Linked DNA regions of Homo sapiens: region 2 is linked to region 1. Evidence: fine-mapped expression QTL. A gene starts in region 1. The other region holds a variant in brackets. All regions are shown on one strand. Distances are between the middles of the regions.

Region 1 (16,108 bases):
TAAGCCATGGTTGTCTGTAAAGTAGGCTCATAATATTCGCATCACTGCTGTTCTGAGGAACTGGGGTTGCTGCAAGCAGAACACTAGTACAGTCCAGTGTCTTCCCACATGGTAGTTGCTGAATGGTTGGTAAATGACTTTAGGCAAATTACTTGACATATCATAGTCCCTGTGTAACAACTTGATATGGTTTGGCTGTGTCCCCATCCAAATCTCATCTTGAATTGTAATTCCCATAATCCCCATGTGTCATGGGAAGGACCGGGGGAGATAACTGAATCACAAGTGCGGTTCTCCTTATCCTGTTCTCATGATAGTGAGTTAGCTCTCACGAGATCTGATGGTTTTATAAGGGGCTTCCTGCTTTGCTGGGCACTCATTTTTCTCTCTCCTGCTGCCATGTGAAGGACGTGTTTGCTTCCCCTTCTGCCATGATTGTAAGTTTCCTGAGGCCTCCCCAGCCATGTGGAACTGTGAGTCAATTAAACATCTTTTCTTTATAAATTACCCAGTTTCAGGTATGTCTTTATAGCAGCATGAGAATGGACTAATACACCACTCATGGGGGTTATCTGAAAGTCATATGAGCAAATAGATATAAAAGTGCTTTGTAGACTATAAAATGATGTACACATGAAGAATAAGGGAAATGGACTAACATGTATTCATTGGCTATTTACTAACAGCCAGGGTCTTCCACATCTCATTAATTCTCTTAACAACTCTACGATACTGGTGTTTCTGTCTTCATTTGGGGATAAAAGAGGCTCCGCAAAGTCATGTATATTCCTAGGTTCACCCAGCTTTAAATTGACAGAACTGGGCTAAAACTCAGTTCTATCCAATTATAAGTCCACTACACTTAATTATAAGTCCACTACACTATTCATCACTTCTAGGACAAAAAGCTTAATTCTTAGTAGACTTCTGACCTTTATACTTCACTTGTTGTGGAATTAGAATCCCTACTGTCCAGCACTATTCCTACTCCGATTTGTCTTTCACATTCCTACTAACTGAATCCTATCTGATCAAAGACAGGTAAAAATCACGTAGTGTAGCCATAATTTTCTCAGTTTCTACTCTAGTAGTTCCATGCTCCAAACATTTTCATGGCTGCTATTTTCTGCAACAGAATAAAACGTAAAGGAAGAAAGATGTAAGAGTATGAGGCATATCTCAGAATCCTATAATCCTTCTATTTCCTAAGGCAGTATAATACAATAGAAGTATCAATAATTTCGGAGTCAAGTGCCTCCCTGAATTTAGGGTTGGTGCCAGGGTAACCTTGGGTTAGTTACTTTTAACTCTTTGAACCTCAAATTCGTCACTCAGAAAATCAGGATAATACCCGTTGCAAATGTACAGGGCCTCAGAGCATGCTTTCTAGTGCTCTGCAGAGGCTTCATCTTATTTCTCCTACTGTATTTTCACTTTCTGTAAACAAAAAGTTATGAAGATTTAAAATGTAAAGGTTTTCTCATTAGTTAAACAGAAATCTGTACTTAACATGTTTTTGCAATTGCCTTAACTTCTGTTTAGAATAAGGTAAAATAGATATGAAGAAAGTGGCCAGGCATGGTGGCTCACCTGTAATCCCAGCACTTTGGGAGGCCAAGGCAGGAGGATTGCTTGGGTATGGAAGTTTGACACCAGCCTGGGGAACAACAATGAGACCTCATCTCCACAAAAAATACAAAAATTAGGTGAGTGTCGTGGCATGTGCTTATATTCCCAGTTGCTCAGGAGGCTGAGGTGGGAAGATTGCTTGAACCCAGGAGGTTGAGGCTACAGTGAACTGTGTTTGCATCGCTGCACTCCAGCCCGGCTGTCTGAGAGAGACCTTTTCTCAAAAATAAAATAAAATAAAATAGATACGAAGAAATAAATAAAATGATTTTAAACATCAAATAAGATGATAGACTTGAAAGTATTTCAAAAATTGTAAAATGTGATACATTTCCTCTTCTTTTTTTATATGTTATTTTTATCTGAGGAACTCATATAATCGTTCTTACTACCTCTCTCCAGCCTAGAAAAAAAGAGCAACCCCATCTCATTTCAAATGTTAATTCTGGCACAGCCTATATATTTCACTCATTTGTAAATCTCTTCATGCAATAGTGACTTCTCCTTTTTTGACTGATACAGTATCCTAATTACAAGGTTATTTTGCACTTGTCTTAATACCTTAAGTGTAATAAAAATGGCTTGAGAAAAAAATATGGTTCATGCTAATATGTGACAACATATTAATTAGTTTACTTTTTGCATTTTGTATTAAGTGAAATATGTACACAAAAGAGTAAATAAAATAATAATAATGCGAATACCTACCACACAGCTTAAGAAATAGCATACTTTTTCCAAGTTTTTGGTTAGAGCACATACTTTTGTGAACTAATATTTGATGTCTTATCTCTTCATTTTCTGTCATTTTCTTTCTTTTTTAGAAACAGGGTCTCACTCTGTCACCCAGGCTGGAGTACAGCGGCATGAACATGGCTCACTGCAGCCTCGACTTCCTGGGCTCAAGTGATTTCTCTCACCTCAGCCTCCCAAGTAGCTGGGACTACAGGTGTGCACCACCATGCCCAGCTAATTAAAAAAATTTTTTTTTGTAGAAACAGGGTCTTGCTATGCATGTGGAATCTAATTTTTTTGTAGAAACAGGGTTTTACCCAGGCTGGTCTTGAACTCTTGGCCTCAAGTGATCTTCCTGCCTCAGCCACCAAAGTATTGGGATTACAGGCGTGAGCCACCACGTTCAGCCTCTTATCGCTTCATTTTCTAAAAAACACATCATGTCGGCCGGGTGCGGTGGCTCACACCTGTAATCCCAGCACTTTGGGAGGCTGAGGCGAGCAGATCGTGAGATCAGGAGATTGAGACCATCCTGGCTAACACGGTGAAACCCCATCTCTACTAAAAATATAAAAAATTAGCTGGGTGTCGTGGCGGGCACCTGTAGTCCCAGCTACTCAGGAGGCTGAGGCAGGAGAATGGCGTGAACCCAGGAAGTGGGAGGCGGAGCTTGCAGTGAGCCAAGATTGCGCCACTGCACTCCAGCCTGGGCAACAGAGTGAGACTCCGTCTTAAAAAAAAAAAAAAAAAAACCATGTCATGTCTACAGTTGGACTGTCACTTATAAGGTTCACCTCATGTGTCTCCTATTGAAATTCTACCTTTTCCATGGCCTTCTTTCTTAACTAGAATTATGAAATTTGGGTGCTGGCACATTTGATGTTTTAACTCTTTCAATTTACTGGTGGGAAAATTAAGGCCCAAGAAGATGAAATGGCTTGCTCAAAGTCAAACAGCAAGAGCATAGAGTAGAAGCAGGATTCTGGCTTCTTAATAACATAAGATTAGCCCTTATTAACTTCCTAGAATATTCATATGATATTACTATATGTGTCAAGTAATCAGACATTTAATTATATACTGTCTGGCATTGCTCAATACTGTTTCATGTATGTCAGTTTTGTTTTCAACTAATCTTTAAGTTCCTTTTGGGCAGGGAATACATCTCAAATCTCTGTACACGCTGCCTGAGTCTTAATATTTTTATAAGACTTGTACCTACAATGTGTCAGCTACTAGACCGATCACTTTACAAACATTTTTTTCATTTAGTATTCACAATAATTCCTGACAGGTAAGTGCTATTTTTCCCAACTAACTAATAGGAAACTGGGGCCCTGAGATGCTAAGGAACCTCTCAGCATCACCTAACAATCTAGTCCTGAAGCCAGAGTTCAAACTCTAGACTGTCTAGATGTCAACCCGTTCAACCGGGTTGCTTCTTTGTGCAAATATCTAGAAAATGGAAGGGCAACTATATGATCCCATTTTACAGATGGGGAAACAGGAATCAGATATGGGAAGAGACTTTCCTAAAATCATGTAGTTGGTAACACCAATGTAAATGTTCGGATGCCAAGTCCAATGCACCAATATACCATAAGATGTTCAAATAAATGTCTGACCTGTTGATTACCATGTTAATAAATACCTTCTCTCTTATTGAATTTCTAATCACTCCTCATTTGTTATATTATATAAAAATACTACCTGAGGATTTAATTTTTAAGCTTACAGTACCAAGATTATTTATATCTTTTAATCGCACTTACTGCTTTTAACCTACTATTAATAACTAAACTTTTTTGTGAAGTTAGAGTTCGGGATCATTCTTATTAATTTTTTGGATTTTTTGTAAACCCCATGGTGCCTAAAACAATGTGTAGTATGTGCTAAACATATTTTTTGAATGACTGAATTACAGCATTTGTTCTTTACATGTTGATGTTTCAAAAATTTTTTCTCGAGAGAATGTAAGTTACTCAAGGACAAGTTAATCTTAACTCACCCCTGGCTCTCCAATATTCTGAGCCCAACCATGTTTACATGATAAATGCTCGAATTTTATTGACTTGAACTGAATTGACTTGATAAATAACCCCATCATCCAAAATGTATTTATGTGAAAGCTTGACCTGAATAAAGAAGTAACATAGTACACTCAGAATACTTTTCTTGTACAAAAATGAAGACATCTTGGCTTCTGGTTCCCTACAGAGGGATGCTTTCCATTTCTGAACATCTGTAATACTAACTCACTAAACCATTCATTTAGCATTTAGTATGTATTATCTTGTACTATTGGTAAATTTTACATCTATATCCTCTTTCCTTGAGTATAATGTAAACCCCAGAGTTGAGACTACAGTTATTACCTAAAAAAGCATGGTGTAGTGAAAAGAGCATGAGTTTTGGTGACAGACAGAAGTGGGTTCAAATCCTAATTCAGCCATTTATCAACTTTGTGACCTTAGAAAGTATTCATTTCATCTCTCCAACTTGTTTAATTGTCTATAAAACAGAGAAAATACCTATCTTTCAGGGTTATTGTAAGGATTAGAAGTAATACATTTCAAAACTGCTGGCACACAGTAACACTCAATAAATTTACAAAGAAAAATGTCTACTATAAAAACTCTTTGACTCTTCAATAATTAAGAATGCCCATATATGCTAGGTACACAACAACACTTATTGCTGACAATATAACCACATGCTTTGTATTACGTCTGCAGGTGCAATGATAAAACAATAACATACCTGTTAGATAAGAGGTAAACTGTTTTGGACCACAACGAATAGCGTAACGTGTAGTTGTTCTCACAGCTTTTGGTTCAGTCTGCAATGCATCCCTGGGACAAAAGAGGGTTCCATCTGATGTTTCTCCCCACCATCTCACTCGGACAAGTACACAAGTGGGAGGCTTTGCAATCTTCCATATGACTCTATTAACAGTAAGTTTTAGAAAACAGCGTAGCTGGCCTTCAACCAGAGGTGGCAGGCTTGTAGATGGAGAAATGTCACTTAAACCTGTAGAGGAATCCAAGAAAACTGAGTCAAAATTTAGACTAAATATAGAAAACATATAATATGCTTTTTGAATGAAAACAAACAGAACACTTTAGTCTTAAGTTCAGCAATTTATCACCACTTAGAAAGAAGGTTTATCCTACCCATTATTCTAATACATGAGAAGTAACTATCAAATCAGACCACCGAATAATCTATCTGGTCATGTAAGCCACTCTGATAACTAATTAGTATTTAAGGTTTGATTTGATTTACTCTAAGTTAAGAACATACCAACAAAGACACACTAATATAAACTTTTCTTTAGTTGAGTTACTATTTGAAAAATACAAATATCAGAAGTAGTTGACATTTTTCTAAGTATGGTTGAAATTTTTCTAAGTACAGTTGTTTTAATTATTGCAACATCTATGGTTTTTAAGATATGTAATCTTTATCTAACTCTCTTTTAAAAAAATCACTAACGATAAAACAGCAACAACTCCCTTCACTCACAAACGATTTAGACTATATCATACAACTCAGCATTTCAATGAAGAACGTCTTAAATTGTAACTTTTCTTTCCTGCCAAGATCACACAGTCAGTGAGGACACAGACTATCTAATCTTCAGATTCTGCCACTATTTTTAACACAGTGCTGGGTTCATATATTTATTGGCTTTAGTATTTATTGGGTTTCATAAAGACATTAAAGTGTAAACAAAGCAATTAATCATGACTTTCTAAAAAATTTTCCTTTAATGACCCTGATTGTCTTTCATTCATAGTACCTTTTCGGGAAAACTTAAAGGAGATTTAAGAAACCATTCCTATATTATTTATACCTTTTTTTTCCTTTGACTTTTCTTTGAGGAGTGGTTATGCCTCAAAGAAGAAAATATATGGAATGTATCAGATCAGGACTAATTATTTGGACTTCTAATGCAAACACCGCCTCTGCCCTCTATAGTGGAGAAAAGACCCACCATAATCCTTATGGATAGTTTCAACATAAAAATTATACACAGTTGTGTATACATTTCTACATATGGAAATGGTATAGCAAAAAGTGTATTCTGTTCTATGCTATGTTATATTATTTCTACTTTGACTTTCCGATTATCAACCAAACATGCTTAACTGTTTTGACACAGGGAGCACTAGTATGCTTCAGTCTCAGATCCTCCTATCTTTCCTGGCAGGAAAGTCAGTATCTCAAAACTGCCTTAGTAATCTTTAAACAGCTTGGATAAGAGTAATTCCCAGATTGTAGCTTCAGTCCTCAACCCAATGGCCTAATGTCCTATCACTGTTCCCAATACTTCTTTTCTCGCTAAACTGCCTACAATGCAAAAAGGCAGGGTCACCCACTGTCCTTTTTCCCTTCGAGGCAGTCTTGTAGAGATTCAATGTCAAGTTTCCTGATCTGCCCTGGGTTCCTAGGTTGACTGTTCTCACTGCAGCTAACATCCCCTACTCGGTGAGCTTGTGTCTCCTTGAGCTGCTAACCTGATGAGGACTCTCTGCTGCACACTCTTTCATGATCTCAGGTCCTTCAGGAGATCGTCATGCCCTTACCCCCACTCCAATCCTATCACACCTGTCATTCCCCACTCTTCCCGGCTCTATACTCTACAATTATTTTTCCCAACTCCTGCTCATAGTCAGCCCTTCATACTTCATTCATTCAACTAACATTTACCGAGTCCTGCTTTGTACTAATCCTTGGTCATTCAGTAATGTATAAAACGTGATTCTTGCCCACAATCACACAACAAATGATATAATCCCTTTGCCAATTTATGTTTCTTCCTGTCCCTGTGGACCTCGAAAGCTACACACACACATACATTTCACTTCGTTATCAAAACCAATCCCATCATTGTTTGTTCTTCTCCTCTACAGTCATCCTACCGGTAACCTTCATCTCATTAATCGCCTGTCTGTGGCCCCTACCCCAGCCCCTAATTCCTTTCTATTCTCTGGAGGGCCAATTGCCCTTCCTTTTAACCTTCTGGTTCCCTGGCTACTTCCTTCTTACGTCCCTTTTCTTGTTTATCCAGCGGGGGTGCGGGTCTCCCTAAAATTCCTTACACCCTGCTCTCCTATTACGCTTTCCTCAATCTTTGATCGCTCAGGTTACCTCTTTTTTTGCGCCCACGGCTGCCCCCAGACCCTTGGCCTTTTCGTTGTTTCATGATGAGCCCGAGCTCTTCTTCACCAGCTCAACTCCGTCTCCAGCACCTAAGCAGTATCCTCCCGCCATCCCTCCCCACGGCGCCTGCGTTCCCCGGCAACCGGCGCCGCTGGGCAGCCTGGGAGGCAGGAAAAAGCGACTCTTCCTCTAACAGTCTCCGGAAAACGGTGCGAAGAGAAGGCGCCAAGACGCCTTCCCTCCAATACACTACAATACCCAGGACGCTTTGCTACAATACCTCTCCGGGGTTGGCTGGGGGGCGCCTCCAGCTGCGCAAGCGCATAGGGATGCGCCCTTTGTGGACTCCATTGCGCAGGGTGCATTGCCCTGAAGAGCGCTCCTCCTTCCGGTGAAAGTCGTCGGGTTCCCAGCCGGGAGTCTGCGGAGTTCTCATACTCTGTTACCCAGCTTCCTTTGTATGAGTGCTGTTGCGCACTTCCGGTGGAAGCGCTGAAGCGAGTGGGTGGAGTTTACGGAGCCGGTGGGCGGTAGGCGGTGCTACGGGTAGCTGGGTGCTGTCCAAAGGCGACAGGGCGTCGTTAGGGGAGCGAGTCGTGACCGGTTGGGCCACACTCAACGTGGGACGAAGCTTCGCCTACTGTTTGACTACGTGCGTGCAGCCTCCCCTCGATGTCGGCCCTCGAAAAGAGCATGCACCTCGGCCGCCTTCCCTCTCGCCCACCTCTACCCGGCAGCGGGGGCAGTCAGAGCGGAGCCAAGATGCGAATGGGGTACGTGACCCATACCCCTTCTCCCTATGGGCCAGGCCCCAGCCGTTGGAGAATGGTATCTCTGGGCGTTCATAGAGGCACGGGAAAGGAGTCTACTGATAGGAGAAAATGTTGGCGGCCTGGAGATATTTAGATGGAGTAGAAGGCAGATTGGGGTACTAGGGGAGGCGCCAAGTCAATAGAAATTGGAGGAAAAATAACGTTGTTGAAGGGAGAGGGGAATGAGGCAAAGGTTGGGGAAGCTGAGAGACTAACATAAGGGATCTGAGAATCACTTCCACAATAAAGGAGGCTTAGAAAAGGGAGTAGAACGGTGACAAAGGTGGAGGAGAATCGGCCAGGGAAGGTGGAGGGAAGTGGGGAATGACTGAGAGAAAAGTTGAGGGGAATTGGGCCAACAACTAAGGAAAGGTTTGGGAGGAGTAGATATTATCAGAGTTCTAATATCTGCACTGTGAGAACTAGATACTAGAAAAGCTGAGGGGGGTAGAAAACACTCGAGACAGGGCTGGAGAAGGAAAGAGGAGAACTAGGAAGCAGACGATTCTAGAGAATTCCCAGAGGTGTAAAGACAGATTCAGCGAATGAGAGGTGAGATTAGGTCTCTTAAGGGAGAATGAGAAAGTTTAGGGAGTAGGCCTAAGGTAAGGTGGAGAACATAGCCACGAAGATTGTTAAGGGTAGTAGGAATGTGCTGAGAAGCTGGACAGGATAAGGGAGAGAGAAGAAGGAGAGGACTGAAGAATTTACAGAGTGAGAAGCTGGACAGGATAAGGGAGAGAGAAGAAGGAGAGAACTGAAGAATTTACAGAGTGACCATAGGCTCTAAAGATTGAGAGATGACTATAAATACGGTTTGGTGAATGGAAGTGCTGCAGTTGTAAGGTCTGGGAAGCTTAGAGGAAGATTTGGGCAATCAGTTTTTGCTGGGCTAGTAGATCTGAGGGAAGCGACGTACTGGCCTAAGACTTTGAATTAGTGAAGCATTGGGAGTTCGAGAAATAGTTTGCTGGAAAGGAAGGAGAGCCATGTAGAAGAGATAGGTTTTGGAATTTTAGATCGTTAAATGGCTTGTGCCAGGTTAGGGGATACTTGGGCCGAGGAGAAAGAATGAGGTGAACATGGGAGAAGTAATTGCTGGAAAGTGGAGAGAATTGAATAGGCATTTGGTTTTGAGGGGATATTTGTAGTTTCAAACAGGATTCTGGGAATTAGTGACTGTAAAGAGAAAAGGAGTAGGAAAGATACTTAGGTATGAGGGCTCCAGAGTATATTTGGGATTCTAGAGATGAATTGGTAGATATTCTTTGAAAAAGGACTACAGAAGAGAAACCTTAGGTTCTGAAGAAGTAATATGTGTAAAAACTTATCAAAAAGGAGGCGAGAGTAGGAGATGCAGTACTGTGACAGTAAGTCCTAGGGATGAAAAGAAAGGAGAATCCTATAAAACAGTGGGGTAAAGGAATGGGAAAAATGGGTGGAAAAACCAGGGAAGGAAACTAAGAATTGAGTGGAGACCTGCTATGATACGCAGTAGAAAAATGAGAAAACTTTAGCAGGAGGAGATAGAGAGATAGACGCACAATAGAGGTAGAAGGCTACATAGAAGGTAAAGTGAAGATTGTTTTGGCTTTGGAAGACAGAAAAGTTGGACTATAACATGAATAAAGAGAATTTGGAAACTGACCCATAACATTATTTGGGAAAACTAACCTGGAGTTTAATATTAATGTAACATTAATTGTTGTTAAATATCTTAGTTGCTGCCTTTCTTAAAATAAATTTGATTTTTCAGTATACCAGCACCCTTCTATACAAATACATAAGAAAATCAGATTTTTAATAATTATACATTCCTTAGATAAGCTTAATTAGAGCTCAGCTTCTCATCTTGGAGAAACAAGTTCTCTGAAGATTGAAGAACTGAATGAAGATACTGAGAGAAAAAAAAAGGAAAATCTGCTGATTAGAAGATTGTATAATTGTTAGTAATTTATCGTTTTTATTTTTTATTACTTTTCATTTTATTTTTTTTTAGAGACAGAGTCTCACTCTGTTGCCCAGGCTAGAGTGCAGTGGCACAATCTCGGCTCACTGCAACTTCCACCTCCCGGGCTCAAGTGATTCTTGTGCCTCAGCCTCCCAAGTAGCTGGGATTACAGGCATGCACCACCACGCCCGGCTAATTTTTGTATTTTTAGTAGAGAGGGGATTTCGCCATGTTGGCCAGGCTGGTCTTAAACTCCTGGCCTTAAGTGATCTGCCCCACTTGGCTTCCCAAAGTACTGGGATTATAGGAGTGAGCTACTGTGCCTGGACAACTTACCTTTTTAAAAAGATGCTTTGGTCTTCTTGGTTTAGGTTAACTGCTTATCCTGGAAAAGAAAGTTCTTTAGAAAGGCCTTTCTTTATGATAGTATTGTGAAGAGAAGAGCATATATTGGCGAATATTTGTGTGGTCCTCAAATGGCTTATTTTCCCGTATCTTTCTTTTCTACTTTATTGGTATATAAGCAGGCTTCATCTAAGTCTCATGGTAGTAATAATATAGATTCTCTTTCTCCTTAGAATCATAAAGCTGAGAGAAAGCATAGACATGGTCTCATTTCACCACTTCATGTAGTTGAGGAACCCAATATTCAGAGAGTTCTGTATTCTATAAGGGAATGTATTAATAAATGAGGGAACTGAGACTCAGATATTCCTAAGGTACCCTAGAAGCTTAGCGGTAGGGCCGTTAAGGACTAGGACTTGGGTCTCTTGACTGTGAGACCCATTGTGTATTTTGGAGTCATAATTGTCATCTGGGGATACTTATTTTGAGTTGTGTATCTTACTCATTTGCATATAATCTAGGATTCAGTCTTTTTCTTCAGTCGTAATTTATGAAGTCTCACACCAATTTCAAAGCATTCTTTATGTCTCCTTATGCTTACTTGCTTTTTTCTTAACTTCCATTCTTCCACTCTATCTATGTTACTCACAAGTTAGTCCTGTTCTCTTGATAGTCTCTTGTGTGGCTTACTCTTAACTATTTTTCATGATCTCTTGCCTTCAATTTCACTAAACATTATTTAGGCATGTTTGCATATTCAGGGTGCATATTCTGAGTTGGTGATTTTTCATGAGTTTCCATAATTCAGTTTTTCAGATTAGATTTAGTAATTCCAAAGTATTGTTGGATAATTTAATAATAGCAATTTTTAAAGTAAGTACTGTGTGCCAGACATTGTAATGGTAACTTTATGTTATTTAATGTGTCCACAGACCTGCATGGTGAATATTTTCCTGCATTGTGGGTAAAGACATTCAGACCCAGAGATTAAAAGTAACCCAACTAGTAGGTAGCAGAGCTAGGATTCAATCTAAGTTTAGTCTCTAGAATCCATTCACTTTTCAGTACACTAATATTTTCTCTTGGGTAAGGCCTGAAATCCTGGTGTCACTCTTCCTTTTAATAGATGCCAATGGATGTTGCCAAAAACAGTGGTTTTGAACTTCTTTATTAAAGCTTTTAGAGCTACTCTGACTAAAGTAGATTTGAGATCCCTATTTGCTTTGCACCCCTGGTGTGCTTGAGAGAAGTATCTTTTGAAAGTCACTGCTTTCGTATATACTATTACTATTAGAGGAACTATAAAATATTAAAGCCATTCATTATTCAACGTGTTTTTGGTTTATCAGTAGTTGTACTTTTTGGCCAGGTGTGGTGGCTCATGCCTGTAATCTCAGCACTTTGGGAGGCCGAGGCGGGTGGATCACCTGAGGTCGGGAGTTCAAGACCAGCCTGACCAACATAGAAAAACACCGTCTCTCCTAAAAATACAAAATTAGCTGGCGTGGTGGCACATGCCTGTAATCCCAGCTACTCAGGAGGCTGAGGCAGGAGAATCACTTGAACCTGGGAGGCGGAGGTTGTGGTGAGCCGAGATCGCGCCATTGCACTCCAGCCAGGGCAACAAGAGCGAAACTCCATCTCAAAAAAAAAAAAGTTCTACTTTTCTATTATTATCTCTTAAATTCCTTTTTTTTTCTTTTGCAAGAGATAGAGTCTTGCTGTGTTGCCCAGGCTGAAGTACAGTGGCTTTTCACAGGCATAATCTTGGTGCATTACAACCTCAAACTCGTGGGCTCAAGCAGTCTTCCCACTTCATCCTCTTGAGTAGGTAGGACTGAGGATACATGCTAGCATGCCCAGCTCTGTAGTGATTTAACTGACATGTATATAGTAGTCCCTTTTTATATTCTATGAGGTAAACTAGGGCAGGAGTTAATATTTTCTTTTAATAAATGAGAAAACTGAAATGTTCATTGACTTGCCTAAGATCACAGAATCATTATGTGGCAGGAACAACATTCAAACCCAGGACTTCGTATTTTTAGTCCATTGTTCTTTCTATAGCTTGCATTGAAGGGTTTGATATTTGAAGTGACAAAGATCTAAGTTTGAAGCCCAACTTAGGTATTTACATTGGTCGAGTCATTTAACTTCTCATAGTCTATTTTCTTATCTCTAAAATGAGAATACTTCTGCTTACCTGAGAGTGCTGTGAGAATAAGATAATACATAAAAAGCACTTATAGTTCCTGACACTGACACATAAGCTCTTAAAGAATGATAGCTAGTAGATAATTATACATTGAGAACTGTGAAGAAGGTTCATAGTTTATGTGGAAGCTCTCCTTTCAGTTTCTTATGTTATCAGCTTTTTTGTCCCCACAAGCTGTATGTTTATTCATATCTGATTAGATAGTCTTTCATCCATCTTCTTAAATTTATTATGGATATCAGGCCTCTTAGGAAGGCTTTAATGAGCTATTCACACAGATGGGGAAATAAAGGGCAAAGTGAAGTGATTTGCTCAAGGTCACAAATTGAGTTACTAAAATAATCAAATCCCAGTATTTCTGTTTTTTTTTTTATTTTTTCATTAGATTTTTAAAAAGTTAAATTTATATGCCATAGAATTCACTCTTTTAAATGTACAATTCAGTGATTTTTGGTATATTCACTCAGTTGTACAATTACCACCACTAATTGCAGAACATTTTCATCCTCCCATAAACTCGTTACTCATTAGCATCTTCCCTTCCTCCCAGCATGTATTGCTTCTGGATCTTGAGTCACAGAAAGGCTTTTCCTTTTTTTGGGTTATAAAGGAATCATTTATATTTTTTCCTGGTACCTGTGTAGTGTCCTTTTTTTTTTTTTTTTTTTTTTTGAGACAGAGTCTTGCTCTGTCACCGAGGCCGGATGGAGTGCAGTGGTGTGATCTTGGCCCACTACAACCTCCACTTCCCGGGTTCAGGCGATTCTCCTGCTTCAGCCTCCCAAGTAGCTGGGATTACAGGCATGCACCACCACACCCAGCTAATTTTTGTATTTTTAGTAGAGACGGGGTTTCATTATGTTGGCCAGGCTGCTCTTGAACTCCTGGCCCCAGGTAATCCACCCACCTCAGCCTTCCAAAGTGCTGGGATTACAGGCATGAGCCAATTTTTTTTTAATCCATTTGAAGTTTATCTTGATATGCAAAGTGAGGAAAAGAAGACATTTTATTTTTATCCAAAGGCTATCTAGTTGTTTTCATCATTTATTAAATTTTTTAGTCCTTTACCCATTACGTAAATTTCACTACAATAAAGAAATAGTCCTGGCCAGGCTCAGTGGTCCATGCCTGTAATCCCAGCACTTTGGGAGGCCAAGGCATGTGGACCACTTGAGCTTGGGAGTTGGAGACCAGCCTGGACAACATGGTGAAACCTCTTCTCTACAAAAATCACAAAAATTTAGCTGGGTGTGGTGGTGTGTGCCTGTAGTCCCAGCTACTCTGGAGGATCATTTGAGTCCGGGAAGCAAAGGTTGCAGTGAGCCAAGATAATGCCCCTGCACTCTAGCCTGGGACACAGAGTGAGACTTTGTCTCAAAAAAAAAAAAAAAAGTCTTCTTTCTCACTGATTAAAATGACACCTTTGTCATATGCCAAATTTCTATATAAATCCGGGTCTGTGGAGTTTCTTTTACGTGCCACTACTGTACTTTTAATTAGAGGATTTATTAATATGTTTTGATGGGTGGTAGAGGTTGTTTACCCCTCATTCATTTTGAGGATTTTCGTGGTTCCTCTTGTTTTTTTCTCACAAATAAACTTTCTAATCCCATAGACTAGTGCCAGAAAAAAATCCTGATAGTATTTTTATTGGGATTACATTAAATACAAACATTAATTTAGAATAAACGTTTTTATGATGTTGAATGTTCCTTGAAGAAATATGGTATCTTTCAATTTGTATGAATCCCTTTTGAAGGAAATATATTTCAGATTCCAAGTATTGACCTAAGTTATATTCAATCTAATATTACTTAAATTCAATAGTACTCTTAAATAATTGTGAAACTCAGTAGATTTACTCTTTAAATACAATTAAGTCTACAAAAATCCCCAAACTCACATTAGCAACATTATATTGATGTGAAACAATCTAATTTGCTGTTATCAGTTTACTGTAGTTTAAACTACAAGGACATTTATTATTGATAGGATGTTCCAGGGTTCATTCAGTTGCTAAACAATTTCATTCAGGACCCAGGCTGTTTGCATCCTTTCTTTTGCCATCCTTAGAATGGTGGCTTTTCCTTCTCTTGCTTGTCACCTTATGGTTGCAGGATGGCTGCTGCCACTCTACTTCTATCTTATCTTTACAAATAAAAAGAAGCGGGGGCCAAAGTCCTTTCCTAGCTAAGCTTGTCTTTTAATTTTTTCCCAGAAATGCAAGCTCCCCAACAGATTTTTCCCTTAAGTCTTATTGTCCAGAACTGTTCACATACCCATCCTAAAACCAATCACTGGCAGTAGGGAATGGGATTAACTATGACTGGTTTAGACCAATTTTGATTCATTCCCTTGGACTGGAGGAGAGACAACAAGAGATCTCCACTAGCTGCTCAAACAAAAGTATTACAATTCTGTTAGGGAAGAGAGAGTGGGAAGTGGGCAGGTAATGTCTGGAATAGAGAATAAACAGCATCTGGCCCAAATCCTGAGGTTAACAAGTGGAGAAGCCTAATCTTCTGATTTCAACTTCCCTACTGTTTTCATTGCAGTGTAAGTATAGGAAGTAATAATCCCACCCCCAACTCCCCTGCCCCTTATTGCCAGATTTCAGCCCCTTGACATTCATTTCAGAACTTCTGAGTAAAAGTCCGTTTTTCCATTGTTGCTTATTGCCAGCAAATCTATTTCTTCTTAGTATCTCCAAAATTGGGTAATTTGCTCTTTTGTTTTATTTTAAACCTAATGAGCCTTCCATGTTATGCTACTTGATGTCAGATTTCAGAAAACATCTCTAGTTGTTTGGGAAAGACTGTTTCCTTCAAACTACAAAATAGTTTTTTTTTTTTTAAGAGAAGAAACTTTTAATTAATAGTTCTATTAAGAGGGTGGCCACACTTAGATATTCTTCAAATACAATATTGATTACAAGTTACAGGTATATTCTACCAATATATTTTGAAGATTGAATAAGAGATTATATTGAAAATTCCAATCATTTCAAACCACACCGGAAGACCGAAGTTGTTTACTTATCAGTCCTTTTCCTATATGCTTCTGTGTGTGTTTTTGGCCATAGACTTTTTCCAGGTTTAAGTAGACATCCTCTCTCTGCCACTAACAAGTTGTATGACTCTGGTCAGTTTCTCTTCCTGGGCCTCGTTATCATGGAAAGAAAGAACGCTTTGGCACCTGACGTACTTGTTTAAATCCAAGCTCCCCAGCCTGGGCAACATAGGAAAAACTTGTCTG
Region 2 (16,108 bases), 52 kb before region 1:
TACCACTGAAAAGTGAGTTAAGGCAGTAAGTGAAGAAGAAATTCAGGTAAATAACTTGCTAACAGTGTCCCAGAGAAGATTTTTTTCAAGAGTTGAAAGGGATCCAGATTAATACCTAGTCTAATCCATATTATTGTTAAGAGAGGCCCACAGGTAAGAAAGTGATTTTGCCTAAGGCATATGATTAGTGTGTGGTATAATCAGAACTAGAACCCAGTCTTGCAATTCTTTGCTCAATGCTTATTCCACATTTCCTATATAATCCTTCTCAGAAAAATGTAGAGAAGATCAATCACTGTGGCCAACAACAACAATAATGTTTAAGAAGCAATACAGATTAAGGCACATTTTGGAATCGAAACGGTGCTAGGTTGAAATTCTAGTTCTACCATAAACCAGCTGTGTGATCTCATAGAAGCTACTTAACTAATTTATGTCTCAGTTTCCTCTTTCCTCATCTGTGAGTTTCCTCTTTCCTCTTTACGTCCTGATATGCAAAAATTCCTAAGATATAATGTTAAAGGCAAGGTGCAGAACCATGTACAGGTTGGGCAGCCCTAACCCCAAAACTCAAAATCCAAAATGCTCCAAAATCCAAAACTTTCTGAATGCCAATATGATGCCAGAGTGGAAAATACCATACCCTACCTCATGTGATGGGTCTCAGTCAAAATGCAGTGAAAACTTTATTTCAAGCACAAAATTATTAAAAATATTGTATAAAATTACCTTCAGGCTATGCATATAAGGTCTATATGAAACATAAATGAATTTCATGTTTAGATTTGGGTCCTATCCCCAAGATATCTTATTAATGTATATGCAAATATTCCAAAATCTGAAAAAATTCGAAATCCTAAATACTTCTGGTTCTAAGCATTTTGAAGAAAGGACACTCAACTTGTGTATGGTGCATTAATACTTGCAGAAACATGGGGGATGGGAGGCAGGGGAAGGGATAAACCAAGCTTGTCCAACCCACAAGTGGCCCAGGATGGCTTTGAATGCAGCCCAACACAAATTTGTAAACTTTCTTAAAACACTGTAAGATTTTTTTGCGATTTTTTTTTTAAGCTCATCAGCTATCATTACTGTTAGTGTATTTTATGTGTGGCCCAAGACAATTCTTCTTCCAACGTGGCCCATGGAAGCCAAAAGATTGGACACCCCTGGAGTAAACATATTTGCTGATACACACACACACACACACACACACACACACACACACACACACACACACACATATATATATACACACACACATTATCTATCTATCTATAATGGCTTAAGGAAGGATATAAAAGCAACAATCTTGATTGTCTGCAAGGATGCAACCGTTCAATTTTGAACCATGTGAATGGATTATCTATTTCAAAAAGGAAACAAAACAAAGCAAAGTAAAAATTTAAAAATCCCGTGTTACTATGCTGTAAAGGAAAAGTTATTTGACTATGTAGTAGGAGTGTTAGGACCACATCTTTTATTTCTCAAACTACTTCCCAGAGAATAAACTTAACACTGATGAACTAACTATTCATAGATCAAACTGGAGAACCAAGGCAAAGCTATCCTCAGAATATATTAGAAAAGTGGCTGTAATTTTGGGTGGCAGGAACATAAATGTCTATTATATTATCCTTTTTCTGTATCTGAAATATTTAAAACAAATTAGAAAAAAAAGACAACACCAAAAGCCTAAGCAACAAAAGAAAAAAAAACAGATAAACTAGAGTACATAAAAATTAAAAACTTTTGTGCTGTAAACAATACCATCTAGAGAGTGAAAGGACAACCCACAGAATGGGAGAAAATATTTGCAAATCATAGATCTGATAAGGGGCTTGTATCTAGGATATACAAAGAACTCTTATAACTCAATAACAAAAAGCCTGATTTGAAAGTGAACAAAGGATCTGAATAGACATTTCTCCAAAGAAGATCTATAAATGGCCAATAAGCACATGAAAAGATGCTTGACATGATTGGCCATCAGGAAAATGCAAATCAAAATCAATGTGATGTCACTTCACATCCACCAGGATGACCAGAATAAAAAAGAATGGAAAGTAACAAGTGTTGACGAGGATGTAGACAAATTAGAACCTTCATATACTGCTAGTGGGAAAATGGTGCAGCCACTGTTGAAAACAGTCTGGCAGTTCTTGAAAAAGTTAAAACATAAAGTTACCATATGACCCAGCAATTCTACCATTAGATATATACCCAAGGGAAATGAAAGCACACAGTCCATACAAAACCACGTACACAAATGTTCACATAGCAGCATTATGCAAAATTGCCAGGAAGTGGAAATAACACGAATGTCCAGCAACTGAGAAAAGGATAAATGAAATGTGGTATATCTATGCAATGGAGTATTACTCAGCCATAGAAAGGAATGAAGTACTGATATATACTATAACATGAAACTTAAAAATATTATGGTAAGTCAAAGACAGTAGTCACAAAAATCACAAGTTGCATGATTCCATTTATATGAGACATCCAGAATGGACAAATTGATAGGGAAAGAAAGATTAGCAGTTGCTTAGGGCTGGGGGAAGAGGGAAATGCGAAGCGAATGCTAGTAAGTATGGGGTTTCTTTTAGGGGGGATGAAAATGTTCTAAAATTAGATTGTGGTGATGGTTGCACAGCCTTGAAAATATTGGCTGGGCGTGATGGCTTATGCCTGTAATCCCAGCACTTTGGGAGGCCGAGGCAGGCGGATCACTTAAGGTCAGGGGTTTGAGACCACCCTGGCCAACATGGTGAAACCCTGTCTCTACTAAAAAATACAAAAATTAGCTGGGTGTGGTGGCATACGCCTGTAATCCCAGCTACTCAGGAGGCTGAGATGGGAGAATCACTTGAACCCGGGAGGTGGAGGCTGCAGTGAGCAGAGATTGCGCCACCACACTCCAGCCTGGGCGAAAGAGTGAGACTCCATGTCAAAAAAAAAAAAAAAAAAAAAGTCAAATGAGTAATTAGGAATTCAAAAATTCTTCCAAAGTCAGAATGTCTAAGGTGCAGAAAACCAGTGTGTCTCTTACTTCCATCTGTAATTTTACTGGAGGCGAGTCGAACAACCTCAGTGATCAAAGCTGTCTTTCCCAATCCGCTTTCCGAAAAGCCCACAGGAAAGTGATATTCTACAAAGAAAGTGCTAAAAAGAAAAAAAAAGTGATTAAAAACTAACCAAACAATAAACCTAATTTCCGTCTGATAAATCCAACATATATTTGAAATCTTACTTTCAGGACCTCTAGTACTCAGAGGCCCTACCTCTTCTTCAAAGCCTTCCACCAACCCTGTCTGAGAGAATCAAAGGCTCCCTTTCTTGTGTTCCCACAGCAATTTTAATACAAAACATCTATTTTGGGCCCTAAAGCTTTATGTTATAGATAGCCATTTAAATGTTTCTCTCTCCTGCTAACTGTAAGATATGTAAGAACAGAGTCTGTATCTTAATTTTCTTTAGTCCCATACTTACTTACACAGTTCTTGGGATATAGCAGGGATTCAATATATTTCTGTAGATTAAATGATGCATATGAAAACACATCCCAAATCACAGTATTATGCAATTGTTGATTATTACCATCAGACACACTTTCCAAAAATGTCAAATTTAGCTTTCTCATGTTAGAGACATACCGCTTTTTTGCTGTAGTCACCTTAGGTGGTGGACCAGCATAGCTTTTTTTGCCAGGGGTCATCTGAGGACTATCTGGAGGAACTCCCATGGTTTCGATGATGATTCTGACTGAATGTGTTCTACCCAAAAGGGCCAGTCTATCCACACTTAGTGTCATCGTTTGGGCATCTTCTGGAGTTTCTGAGAGCATCTGTTGTTCAACCAAATTTCTGAAAGGAGTTCACACAAGCAGTGAGGCATACTGCTACAGGCTTCACATGAAACAATCTAGTTTGCACAGGCAAGATGAGGAAAAAGGGAGGGCAGCAAGTTTTTATTTTTTTATTTTTATTTTTGACACAGGGTGTTGCTCTGTCACCCAGGCTGGAGTGCAGTGGCACGATCATGGCTTACTGCAGCCTTGACCTCCTGGGCTCAAATGATCCTCCCACCTCAACTTCCCAAGTAGCTGGGACCACAAGCATGGGTCATCACACTTGGCTAATTTTTGTATTTTTTGTAGAGATGAGATATTACTATGTTGCCCAGGCTGGTCTTGAACTCCCGGACTCAAGCAATCCTCCTGCCTCAGCCTCCCAAAGTGCTGGGATTACAGGTGTGAACAACCACACCCAGCCAAGTATCTTGACTCACAAGTTATCAAGGATTGGAAACAGCTTTTATTATCAGAATTCTGGTCCTATAGTACAAGAAATCTCAAAAAATGTAAAAAAAAAATATAATCTAAAGGTTTGAGAGTGTATATTCAGGGTAATTTGAATCTATGCTCCCAGGTAAAAAAAAAATTTAAAAATACTATATAGATATATACACACACACACACACATACATACATATATATATACATACATATATATACACACACTTATACACACACAACATATATACACACACATACATTATACAATACATATGAGTACAGAAACTGAAACTCCAAATTTAGGTTTTTCTAGAAGGGACACAGACCTTATTTCAGTTACCCACTATTCTAATGTAACTACTATTGTCACTTTTGTGTATTCCTTCTCATTTGCTTTCCTTATGCATATTTTCTACACAGTTGTGATCACAGTACACATACAACCTAGAATTCTGCTTTCTTCCTTAACCATTTAAATTATACCTATCTTGGTAGAATCAAAAATATGAAAACGACCATACTGCCAAAAGCAATCTACAAATTCAGTGCAATTCCCATCAAAATACCCTCATCATTCTTCACAGAACTAGGAAAAAAAATGTTAAAATTCATATGGAACCAAAAAAGAGCCCACATAGCCAAAGCAAGATTAAGCAAAAAGAACAAATCTGGAGGCATCACATTACCTGACTTCAAACTATACTATAAGGCCACAGTCACCAAAACAGCATGGTATTGGTATAAAAATAGACACATAGACCAATGGAACAGAATAGAGAATCCAGAAATAAAGCCAAATACTTATAGCCAACTGATCTTCAACAAAGCAAACAAAAACATAAAGTGGTGAAAGGACACCCTATTCAACAAATGGTGCTGGGACAATTGGCAAGCCACATGTAGAAGAATGAAACTGGATGTTCATCTCTCACCTTATAAAACTATCGACTCAAGATGGATCAAGGACTTAAATCTAAGACCTCAAATCATAAAAATTCTAGAAGATAACAATGGAACAACCCTTCTAGACATGGTTTAGACAAAGACTTCATATCCAAGAACCCAAAAGCAAATGCAACAAAAACAAAGATAAATAGATGGGACTTAATTAAACTAAAAAGCTTCTGCACAGCAAAAGAAACAGTCGGCAGAGTAAACAGACAACCCACAGAATGGGAGAAAATCTTCACAATCTATACATCTGACAAAGGACTAATATCCAGAATCTATAAGGAATGCAAACAAATTAGCAAGAAAAAATCAAACAATCCCATCAAAAAGTGGTCTAAGGACATGAATAAACAATTCTCAAAAGAAGATATACAAATGGCCAACAAACGTATGAAAATATGCTCAACATCACTAATGATCAGGGAAATGCAAATCAAAACCACAATGCGATACCACTTTACTCCTGCAAGAATGGCCATAATAAAAAATTAAAAAAAAAAAGAATGTTGGTGAGGATGTGGTGAAAAGGGAACACTATTACACTGCTGGTGGGAATGTAAACTAGTACAACTACCATGGAAAACAGTGTGGACATTCCTTAAAGAACTAAAAGTAGAACTACCATTTGACCCAGCAATCCTACTTCTAGGTATCTACCCAGAGGAAAAGAAGTCACTATATGAAAAAGATACTTGTACTTGCATGCTTATAGCAGCACAATTTGCAATTGCAAAAATATGGAACCAGCCTAAATGCCCATCAATCAATGAATGGATAAAGAAATTGTGGTATACATATATGTGTGTATATATATACACACACACACGTATATATATACACACACATATATACGTGTGTGTATATATACACGTGTATATGTGTATATACACGTGTATATGTATATATACACACGTGTATATATACACACGTGTATGTATATATACATATACACGTGTATATACACATATACACGTATATATGTGTATATACACATATACACGTATATATACACATATACGTGTATATGTATATATACACATATATACGTGTATATGTATATATACGTGTGTGTGTATATATATATGAATATATATATATGAATATATATATGAATATATATATATGAATATATATATATGAATATATATATATGAATATATATATATGAATATATATATATGAATATATATATATGAATATATATATATGAATATATATATATGAATATATATATATGAATATATATATATGAATATATATATATGAGTGAGCTGTGATTGTGCCACTGCACTCCAGCCTGGGCAACATAGTGAGACCCCGTCTCAAAAAAAAAAAAGTAGTCTACCCAAATAATTAGGTGACATCGTCTAAGTCATTTGGCCTCAAATATATATATATATATATATATATATATATGGAATACTACTCAACTATAAAAAGGAAATGAAATAATGGCATTTGCAGCAACCTAGATGGAATTGGAGACCATTTTTCTAAGTGAAGTAACTCAGGAACAGAAAACCAAATATCATATGTTCTCACTCATAAGTGGAAGCAAAGCTATGAGGATGCAAAGGCATAAGAATGATACAATGGACTTTGGAAACTGAGGGCAAGAGTGGGAAGAAGGTGAGGGATAAAAGACTACTAATTGGAGGCCGGGTGTGGTGGCTCACAACTGTAATCCCAGCACTTTGGGAGGCCAAGGTGGGCGGATCACCTGAGGTTGGGAGTTCAAGACCAACCTGACCAACATGGAGAAACGCCGTCTCTACTAAAAATACAAAATTAGTCGGGCATGGGGGCACATGCCTGTAATCCTAGCTACTCGGGAGGCTGAGGCAGAAGAATTGCTTCAATCTGGGAGGTGGAGGTTGCGGTGATCTGAGATCGTGCCATTGCACTCCAGTCTGGGAAACAAGAGCGAAACTCCGTCTCAAAAAAAAAAAAAAAAAGACTACAAATTGGGTACAGTGTCATATTGCTTGGGTGATGGGAGCACCAAAATCTCAGAAATCACCACTAAAGAACTTATTCAGGTAATCAAACACCACCTGTTCCCCAAAACCTATGGAAAACAAATTTAGCCATCTTTTCAGATTATTACATTTTTAAGAATTACAATGTTTACTGAGTTATTGTAATTAATCACTCTGATGGTGCTGGGCAAATGGGTCATTTCACCTTGGGAGATCTTGTGAAAATAACATTCCTTTGTGTTTACCTTTAAATAAACAGTCAGAGCAGCTCACCTATTTCTCTTGCCTGCTGACCTCTTCTTCAGCTTATGATCACTTGACTCCAGAACCTTAGATGATCTGGCAAGAGCTGTTGACTGGCTTATTTTTTTAGAAGGGACGATATCATCCTCTTCACTGAGGAAATCACTGATGCTGGTATCAGATTTCTATGGAGAGGAAGAAACAGAGACACTAAATGACTGCTGCTTTGGGAATTGTAGCTACGAAACATTTCTCTAAAGAAAGCAAGTTCTTCTCTGTACATACATCATTCTCTTAAAGAAAGAACTGACACCAGGGAGATAATCCCATATTTCTCCTGGTTATACAAAAATAATCTGAAGTTCACAAAAATAACCTACAAGTTCAGTTCAAAGCAAATAAAGGAAGGTAGATTCTTCTTTCAAATTCTCAATAATAATAACTATTATTTATTGACTATAGACCATATGTCTGGTATTATGCTTAATGCTACATGTATATTTCTAATATTCACCAC[A/C]TTCCGACAAGGTACCTTTATGTCAGTTTTTACAAGTGAGAAAATCAGAGCTGAAAAAAGTAAGGCAGCTTGTTTATGATCCATAGCTGTAAAGCCAGATTTTGATCTCCATGGGCTTCAAAGCCTGTATTTCTACCATAGTTTGAGGCCAAATGACTTGGACGATGTCACCTAATCATCTGGATAGACTATTTTTTTTTTTTTTTTTTTTGAGACAGGGTCTCACCGTGTTGCCCAGACTGGAGTGCAGTGGCACAATCACAGCTCACTGCAACCCTGACCTCCCTGGGGCTCATGTGATCCTCTTACCTCAGCCTCCCAAGTAGCTGGGACTACAGACATGAGCCACCACACCTGACTAATTTTTGTATTTTTTGTAGAGAGGAAGTTTGGCCATGTTGCTCAGGCAGGTCTTAAACTCCTGGGCTCAAGTGATCTGCCCATCTCAGCCTCCCAAAGTGCTGGAATTACAGGCATGAGCCACCGTACCCAGCCAAGACTACTTTTTGTCACCATTCTATACTACAAATGATTCATTCTGCTTTTAATCTTGCTAAAATGAACTGTTTACTATAGTCACAAATTTTCTTAATGAGAGAACCAATGGCTAAGCCCCTTGCAATTCATTTTTATTTTGAGAAAAGGCAGCTACTGCAATGGACTGATCAGCCCTCTACATCACAAAATGTAAAATAAAGAGAGAAGATGGCATTATAGTTACTGGGTTCCATTTTTAAAAAAAGACATAAAGCTTGCTAATATAATATAAATTCAGGACACAAACCCAAAGTTATTTTAAGTCTATCATTTAAAATTACCCTTTTTTCAGCATGTCAGGGGGTATAATGTGTTGATCTGTGATAGGGGGACAAATTAATTTAAATAAGCATGATAAGAATGTCTTCTTGGAAGCAATACAACTTTTTTTTTTTTTTTTTTGAGATGGAGTCTCAGTCTGTTGCCCAGGCTGGAGTGCAGTGGCGCAATCTCCGCTCACTGCAACCTCTGCCTCCCAGGTTCCAGTGATTCTCATGCCTCAGTCTCCCAAGTAGCTGGGACTAAAGGAATGTGCCACCATATCTGGCTAATTTTTGTATATTTAGTAGAGACAGGGTTTCACCATGTTGTCCAGGCTGGTCTCGAACTCCTGACCTTAAGTGATCTGCCCACTTTGGCCTCCTGAAGTGCTGGGATTACAGGCATGAGCCACCACACCACCACAATACAACTTTTAAAAGGCAAAATTACAAAGATTTTTGCCTTTAAGTTATCCTTTGAGTGGCAGCTTTTAAAAATGGTTATTGACTAGTGCAACTGAAAAATAAATTTTAAATTTTATATAATGTCAACTAATTTAAGCAGTGGCATGTGGCTACTAGCTACATTGAACAGCATGATTGTAAGATTACTTCCTTTTTTTTTTTTAATTATACTTTAAGTTCTAGGGTACATGTGCACAACGTGCAGGTTTGTTACATATGTATACATGTGCCATGTTGGTTTGTGGCACCCATCAACTCATCATTTACATTAGGTATTCCTCCTAATGCTATCCTTCCCCCAGCCCCCAACCACCCTACAGGCCCTGGTGTGTGATGTTCCCCGCCCCGTGTCTAAGTGAACTCATTGTTCAATTCCCACCTATGAGTGAGAACAGGCGGTGTTTGGTTTTCTGTCCTTGTGATAGCTTGCTCAGAATGATGGTTTCCAGCTGCATCCATGTCCCTGCAAAGGACATGACCTCATCCTTTTTTATGGCTGCATAGTATTCCACGGTGTATATGTGCCACATTTTCTTAATCCAGTCTATCACTGATGGACATTTGGGTTGGTTCCAAGGCTTTGCTATTGTGAATAGTGCCGCAATAAACATATGTGTGCATGTGTCTTTATGGTAGCATGATTTATAATCCTTTGGGTATACACCCAGTCATAGGATTGCTGGGTCAAATGGTAATTCTAGTTCTAGATCCTTGAGGAATTGCCACATTGCCTTCCACAATGGTTGAACTACTTTACATTCCCACTAACAGTGTAAAAGCATTCCTATTTCTCCACATCCTCTCCTTCAAGAATGAAGTTTATCAGATGGCTAAGAGCATTTCAACATTCAAAGTAGAAGGATTAGTACCAGCAAAAAATAGGGAGATACAAGAGCTAAGGCCAGGTGCAGTGGCTCATGCCTGTAATTTCAACCCTTTGGGAGGCCAAGGCAGGAGAATTGCTTGAGCCAGGAGTTTGAGACCAACTTGGACAACATAGTGAGACCCTGTCTCTACAGAAAAAAAAAAAAAAGAGCTAAAATGTTTCAGGAGTGGCAAGTGGCTTGAGACTCCAGTATGGCTGGAGACTCCAGTGGGTAAAGGGTATAAGTGGGAGATGAAGTTAGAGAGGTCAGTCAGGGTCAGATTCTAACACCATGCTCAAGGCTGATGACACACTGTGGTCTAGTAGAAAAACATACAGGCTTTTTGTCAGATAGACTACGGTGAGAATTCCAGTTCTGCCACTTAATTATTTGTACTTAACCTCTTTAAGCTTTTGTTTCATGCTATGTAAAAGAGAGATAATACTATCTCATGCGGCTGGTAAAAGAATTAAATAAGACAGAGCTGGACATGATGGCTCACACCTGTAATCCCAGCACTTTGGGAGGCTGAGGTGCGCGGACCACTTGAAGTCAGGAGTTCAAAACCAGCCTGGCCAACATGGTGAAGGCCTGTCTCTAATAAAAATGCAAAAATTAGCCAGGTGCAGTGGCATGTGCCTGTAATCCCAGCTACTCGGGAGGCTGAGGCAAGAGAATGGCTTGAACCTGGGAGGTGGAGGTTGCGGTGAGCCGAGATCATGCCTCTGCACTCCAGACTGGGTGACAGAATGAGAGACTCCGTCTCAAAAAAAAAAAAAAAAAAAAAGAATTAAACAAAATAATGAATTAAAAACAGTATTTAGTGTTCTATTAGTTTCAGCCATAAAAACACAAAACAAACAACCCCCCCAAGTATTTAATAAATGACAGATAAGATGTGAAGTCCCTAGCACACAGAAAATGGGTAATAAATGTGTAATAAATATTTCCTCTTTATCCTATAGGGAACACAGTATCAGTGATGACTGTGAAGGTGGGAAGTCATGAAATCCTAACAGTTCCTAATGTCTTTCCCGTCCACCACCTCCTGTCCAATTCCACTGCAGGTACTCTCATTCAGGCATTCTGTCTCATGCTTCCCGTAGCCCAGTGGCTTCCTATCTGCTTCTCGTTATTCCCTCTTCAGTCTGCCCCACTGTAGGGTTGCCAGACACAGATTCCTAGAACACTCTTGTGATATGTGATTTCCTCTTCACCTGACATGAAAAGCCTTTCACAGATTGGCTGCAATGTGCCAGCCTGCCTTATCAACTCCTTTTCCACACAAATTCTCATCTAGTCAATTGGGTCCCTTGTAGCGCAAAAATGTGTTTTTCTGCACAGGTCATTCTTTCTACGCCCATTTTGTATCTTTTCTCTGCTTCTCAAAACACTATCTTTCAATCTCAGTTAAAACCCTTTATTCTTCATTATGGTTTTTCCCCACAATCTCATGTAAAAGTTTTCCCTGCTTCTTCCAAACTGTGGTAGCCCTCACTGGCTTACTACTGGGCTGATATAAACTACCTTGTATTTCAGTATCTTTTTTTGACCTGGAGAAAAGGAAAATCAGGAGTATGAACCTTCACACATATAAATAACTACTTGTGGAACAGGGATTGGACATAGTATGTATAGATTCTAGAAGATGCTAAGCCAATGAAAAGAGCATAAGGCTTGATAGAAAAAAGAACTTTGAAAAAACCAGAGCTGCCAGAAAAGAGAATCCCTGTCTTACAGGCCAGAAGAGTTTTGTCTCCTGTGAGTAAGAAGTGTTTTTGGAATATTTTTAACAGATACCAGTTAAGGATGGTTCTGAGGGTATAACTACATCAGCTCTTCCTTATAAAAGCTCTAAGGAAACCATAAAATATATTAATTAAACCATAGGCTTTGGACTCAGGCAAATGTGAATTTGAATTCTGGCTCTAATACTTATTTGCTATATGTTCTTGCACAAAATATTCAAATCCTACTAGGCCTGTCTCAACATCTGTAAAATGAAGATAATACTTTCCTCTTGAGGTTGTCATTAAAATTAAGTAAGGTAAGTTATGTAAAATGCATAGCTGTCATGCCTGCAGCTACTAATATTATTAATACATTTGTTCTCTAATTCTCAATGCTTCAGGTTCAGTGACTTACAGGTGCTGTATAAAATAAATTCTCCAGAAGACTCTGGTCATACTGAGGGTCATTCAGCTCACTGATGCAATACACATCACTCCCAGGAGATGGGGAATCTGGAGGAGAGCCTAGCCCATCCCAGAAATTGCCTTGGGATAATTCAGCACTGCAGAGATAAGAAAACAAAGCAGAAGAATTTTAATAGAAGTTTCAGCTGAACTATTCTCTCTTTAGTGAAACTTTCTGAGGTTCTAAATGTGGAAGGAGATATGTTAAACAAAAGACTCACATTAAACAAAAGACTACTGAATAAATATTTCCCAATTATACTACCCCTCCTCTGGGATGCTAACAACCAGTATTCAGAAACACACTACTGACACTGATTGTGATCTCATTCATGTATTCAACAAACATTTATTGGTCACTTATTATGTGCTAGGTCCTGGAAGATATAGAGGTGGCTAAGCTAACACAATCTGTACTCTTGTATTATTTATAGTCTGATAGGGAGAAAAAAGGGTATAATTCAATGAGTTAAATATTATATATCGATTTTGCAAAAAATTCACAGATACACCCACTTCCAATAAACAAAAATACGTGTATTTAGGACTAATTATGGTGATATTAGTTCTATATCGAATACAAAAAATGAATAAAACACAGTTTACAAACTAATAGGAAGATAAGCATATAAGTAACTATAAACTCAGAATTTTGAAGGAACAAATACTCCTTTTTTTTTTGAAATCCCACGCTGGTATCTTTTTTTTTTTTTTTTTTGAGGTGGAGTTTTGCTCTTATTGCCCAGGCTGGAGTGCCATGGCATGATCTAGGCTCACTGCAACCTCTGCCTCCTGGGTTCAAGTGATTCTCCTGCCTTAGCTTCCCTAGTAGCTGGGATTATAGGTGCCTGCCACCATGCCTGGCTAATTTTTGTATTTTTAGAGATGGGGTTTCACCATGTTGGCCAGGCTGGTCTCTAACTCCTTAGGTGATCCACCCACCTTGGCCTCCCAAAGTGCTGGGATTACTGGTCCCTTTTTTGATAGCAATTTTTACTTTCTAACTTTCTTTCAGGTCCTTGTATAAATTCCATATTTTCCCTCAAAGTTTAGGCTCCTTGAGGGCAAAGTATGCATATATTTCTGTTTCTCCTACAGTAATTAACATTTAATAAGCACCTGTTAGTGAACTTAATGATTTCTTAATGAACATGATGCCAGGTACTGTAATACACATTTTATTTATTATTTCTTTCCATGTTGCTTCCTTTCAAGCTAGCTGCTATACTTTTTTCCTTAATTTCTCAAGAAAATAGTATATAATCACTACCTTCAAATTAGACAGTGTTCTTATATTATTTTGAACAAGCAGATAGTTAACATTCCCTTCCTCACCTTTCCTTAGGCTACAGCAGGGTTTCTCAATCTCAGCCCTGCTGACATGTTGGGTCAGACAATTCTTTATCTTTGGGACTGTCCTATGCATTTCAGATCCCTGGCCTCCACTTACCAGATGCCAGTAGCACGTTCCCAGTTGTGACAACCGAGAAATGTCTCCAGACACTGTAAATGTCTCATGGGGTTGGGGTGGGGAAAAATCACCCCCTCCTTGAAAACCATCAATCTATAGTAACTCTCAAAGGTCAGAACAGCTTCCTAACTGCCATAATCCAACTAACAACTTCCCAGTCGACATGGCCTCTCTGCAGCTTCTGCAGCCCAGGAGTTTGAGACCTACTTCATTTTGAAACTTTACTTTTTGTTCTTTTATATAACTGTATTATTTGTCACATATACACTCCCCTTTGTATACCCTTAAAGTTATGAAAATTTTTCCAGTTGCTTGTTATTCCCCACTTTGTACACCCTTAAAAGTTATGAAGACTTTTCCACTTTTTACTCTTTTTTGAAATTAATATTTATTTGAATTTATTCACCTGTCTATGATATACTAAAAGGGCTAAAATTTGCCTGTGTTCCTTGGCCATAAAATAAGCCTATTCTCATGACTATCCTTTTCTTTTTCTTCTTAGACATAATTTTAAATAAAAGAATACACATACCTATTTTGAAAGTCAAATACGACTACAAGGCTTATAATAAAAAACAGTAGCTGACTGACTCCTCAGAGGTGATCACTTTCAATTCCCTTGGATGCTTCTTCTGGTATTTACCTTCATATTTCTCTTTTTAAAAATTGTATTAGAGACATGGTATTGCTTTATTGCCCAGCCTGGAGTGCACTGGTGTGATCATAGCTCACTGAAGCCTCGAACTCCTGGGCTCAAGGGTTCCTCCTGTCTCAGCCTCCCTAGTAGTAGCTAGGATTACAGGTGCACACCAATACACTCGGCTAATTAAAAATTTTTGTAGAGACTGGGCCTCATTATGTTGCCCAGGCTGGTCTTGAACTAAACGATCTGACATAGCCTCCCAAAATACTGGAATTACAGGTGTGAGCCCCCATGCCTGGCTTTACCTCTATATTTTGAAGTGACACATTAATATACTGTTATTTTCTGATTTTTCACTTTTCTGTATGATCTATGAACTTCCTATTATGAAAAATGAAGGACCCACTCTCTTATACCATTACACTTGAACCACACATTTCCCTTTTACCCATCTTCTCTATTTAGTTATATTACAAATTTTTTGGTTAAATTAATTTTCAGGGTTAATATTGTATCAGAGCCAAGTACAGTATAATTTATTGCACCTTTTTTCTTATACAACTAATTATCCCTGGTATAAATTAACTGCCTTTTCATTTGCTTAGTTTTCTTTGACTCTATTACTACTTTACGAGTGAACTCTTCAAGAGAATTGAAAATTTCCTTTGAGAGAACTTAAAATTTGGTCAATATATGTTCCATTCCCCTCCACCTCTGCACTCCTTAGAAACATCCCTACTGAAGTCAGGGATGCCCCAATATGGACTGTTTGCTCTCTCTCTATGACATATACCCGAAATCTCCTTCTATCCCTCTTCTGTGTTGTAGCCCCTATTTCTTAGACTATATGTCTTACTCTTTCTTCCTAAAATAAATGTTCAGTAGAAGACATTTTCCTGTGGTTTTCTGAGGAATAGTGCAAGACAGGTAAACTTCTGAGACTATGGATAAATAAAGTTATTTTTACTCTACCCTCACACTTGATTAATAGTTTGATTAGGAGTGGAATTTTAGGTTGAAAATAATTTTACTTCAGAATCTTAAGACATTTCTGCACTGAATTCCAAGGAACTGGTAGAAAATCTGATGTCATTCCAATTCCTGATACTGTATATGTGACCTTTATTCTTTCTCCCTCTCTGGAAGCTTTTAATATGGTCTCTCAGTATTTTAAAATTTCATAATTATGTGTCTTGGTGTATCTTTTTTCATTCACTGTTCTGAGTTCTTGATCTTTCTTTTTCCATAAACAGCTTTATTGAGATATAATTCACATACCATACAATCTTCCCATTTAAAGTGAGCAATTTGGTCAGACATGGTGCTCACGCCTGTAATCCCAGCACTTTGGGAGGCCGAGGCCGGCGGAAGACTTGAGGTCAGGAGTTCAAGACCAGCCTGGCCAACACGGTGAAACCCCATCTCTACTAAAGATACAAAAAATTAGCTGGGCATGGTGGCATGCGCCTGCAATCCCAGCTACTCGGGAAGCTGAGGCAGGAGAATCGCTTGAACCCAGAAAGTGGAGGTTGCAGTTAGCTGAGGTTGCGCCACTGCACTCCAGCCTGGGTGACAAAGCAAAACTCTGTCTCAAAAAAATAAAAATAAAAAGACTAAATAAATAAAGTGAGCAATTCAATAGTTTTTAGTATGTTCATAAATGTGACCAACCATCACCACTCAA

Direction of the effects. Positions count from the first base shown, and alleles are read on the strand shown. Sizes are in standard deviations (SD) of each study's normalised expression.
In carriers of allele C in region 2, the expression in anterior cingulate cortex of the gene that starts at base 7,783 in region 1 tends to be lower than with A alone (large effect, 1.2 SD a copy in GTEx).

What was found. PIP is the estimated chance that this variant, and not a neighbour inherited with it, causes the effect.
Region 2: its variant is the best candidate, but not a certain one, in a credible set for the expression of C2CD3 in anterior cingulate cortex (GTEx, PIP 0.84).

What each region holds. Positions count from the first base shown.
Region 1 is chr11:74,163,220-74,179,327 of GRCh38, forward strand. It overlaps C2CD3 (C2 domain containing 3 centriole elongation regulator), which reads right to left and starts at 7,783. Exons shown (of 33, transcript NM_001286577.2): 1 at 7,519-7,783; 2 at 5,125-5,394. The coding sequence starts at 7,573. It overlaps PPME1 (protein phosphatase methylesterase 1), which reads left to right and starts at 8,070. Exons shown (of 14, transcript NM_016147.3): 1 at 8,070-8,303. The coding sequence starts at 8,203. RefSeq lists enhancers at 7,018-7,941, 7,715-8,164, 7,942-8,864.
Region 2 is chr11:74,110,728-74,126,835 of GRCh38, forward strand. C2CD3 (C2 domain containing 3 centriole elongation regulator) reads right to left here. Exons shown (of 33, transcript NM_001286577.2): 8 at 12,261-12,408; 9 at 7,501-7,655; 10 at 3,657-3,866; 11 at 3,053-3,165. Among named protein-coding and RNA genes, the nearest start is that of C2CD3, 52 kb to the right of the region's middle. The variant A/C (reference allele first, on the strand shown) is at 7,988.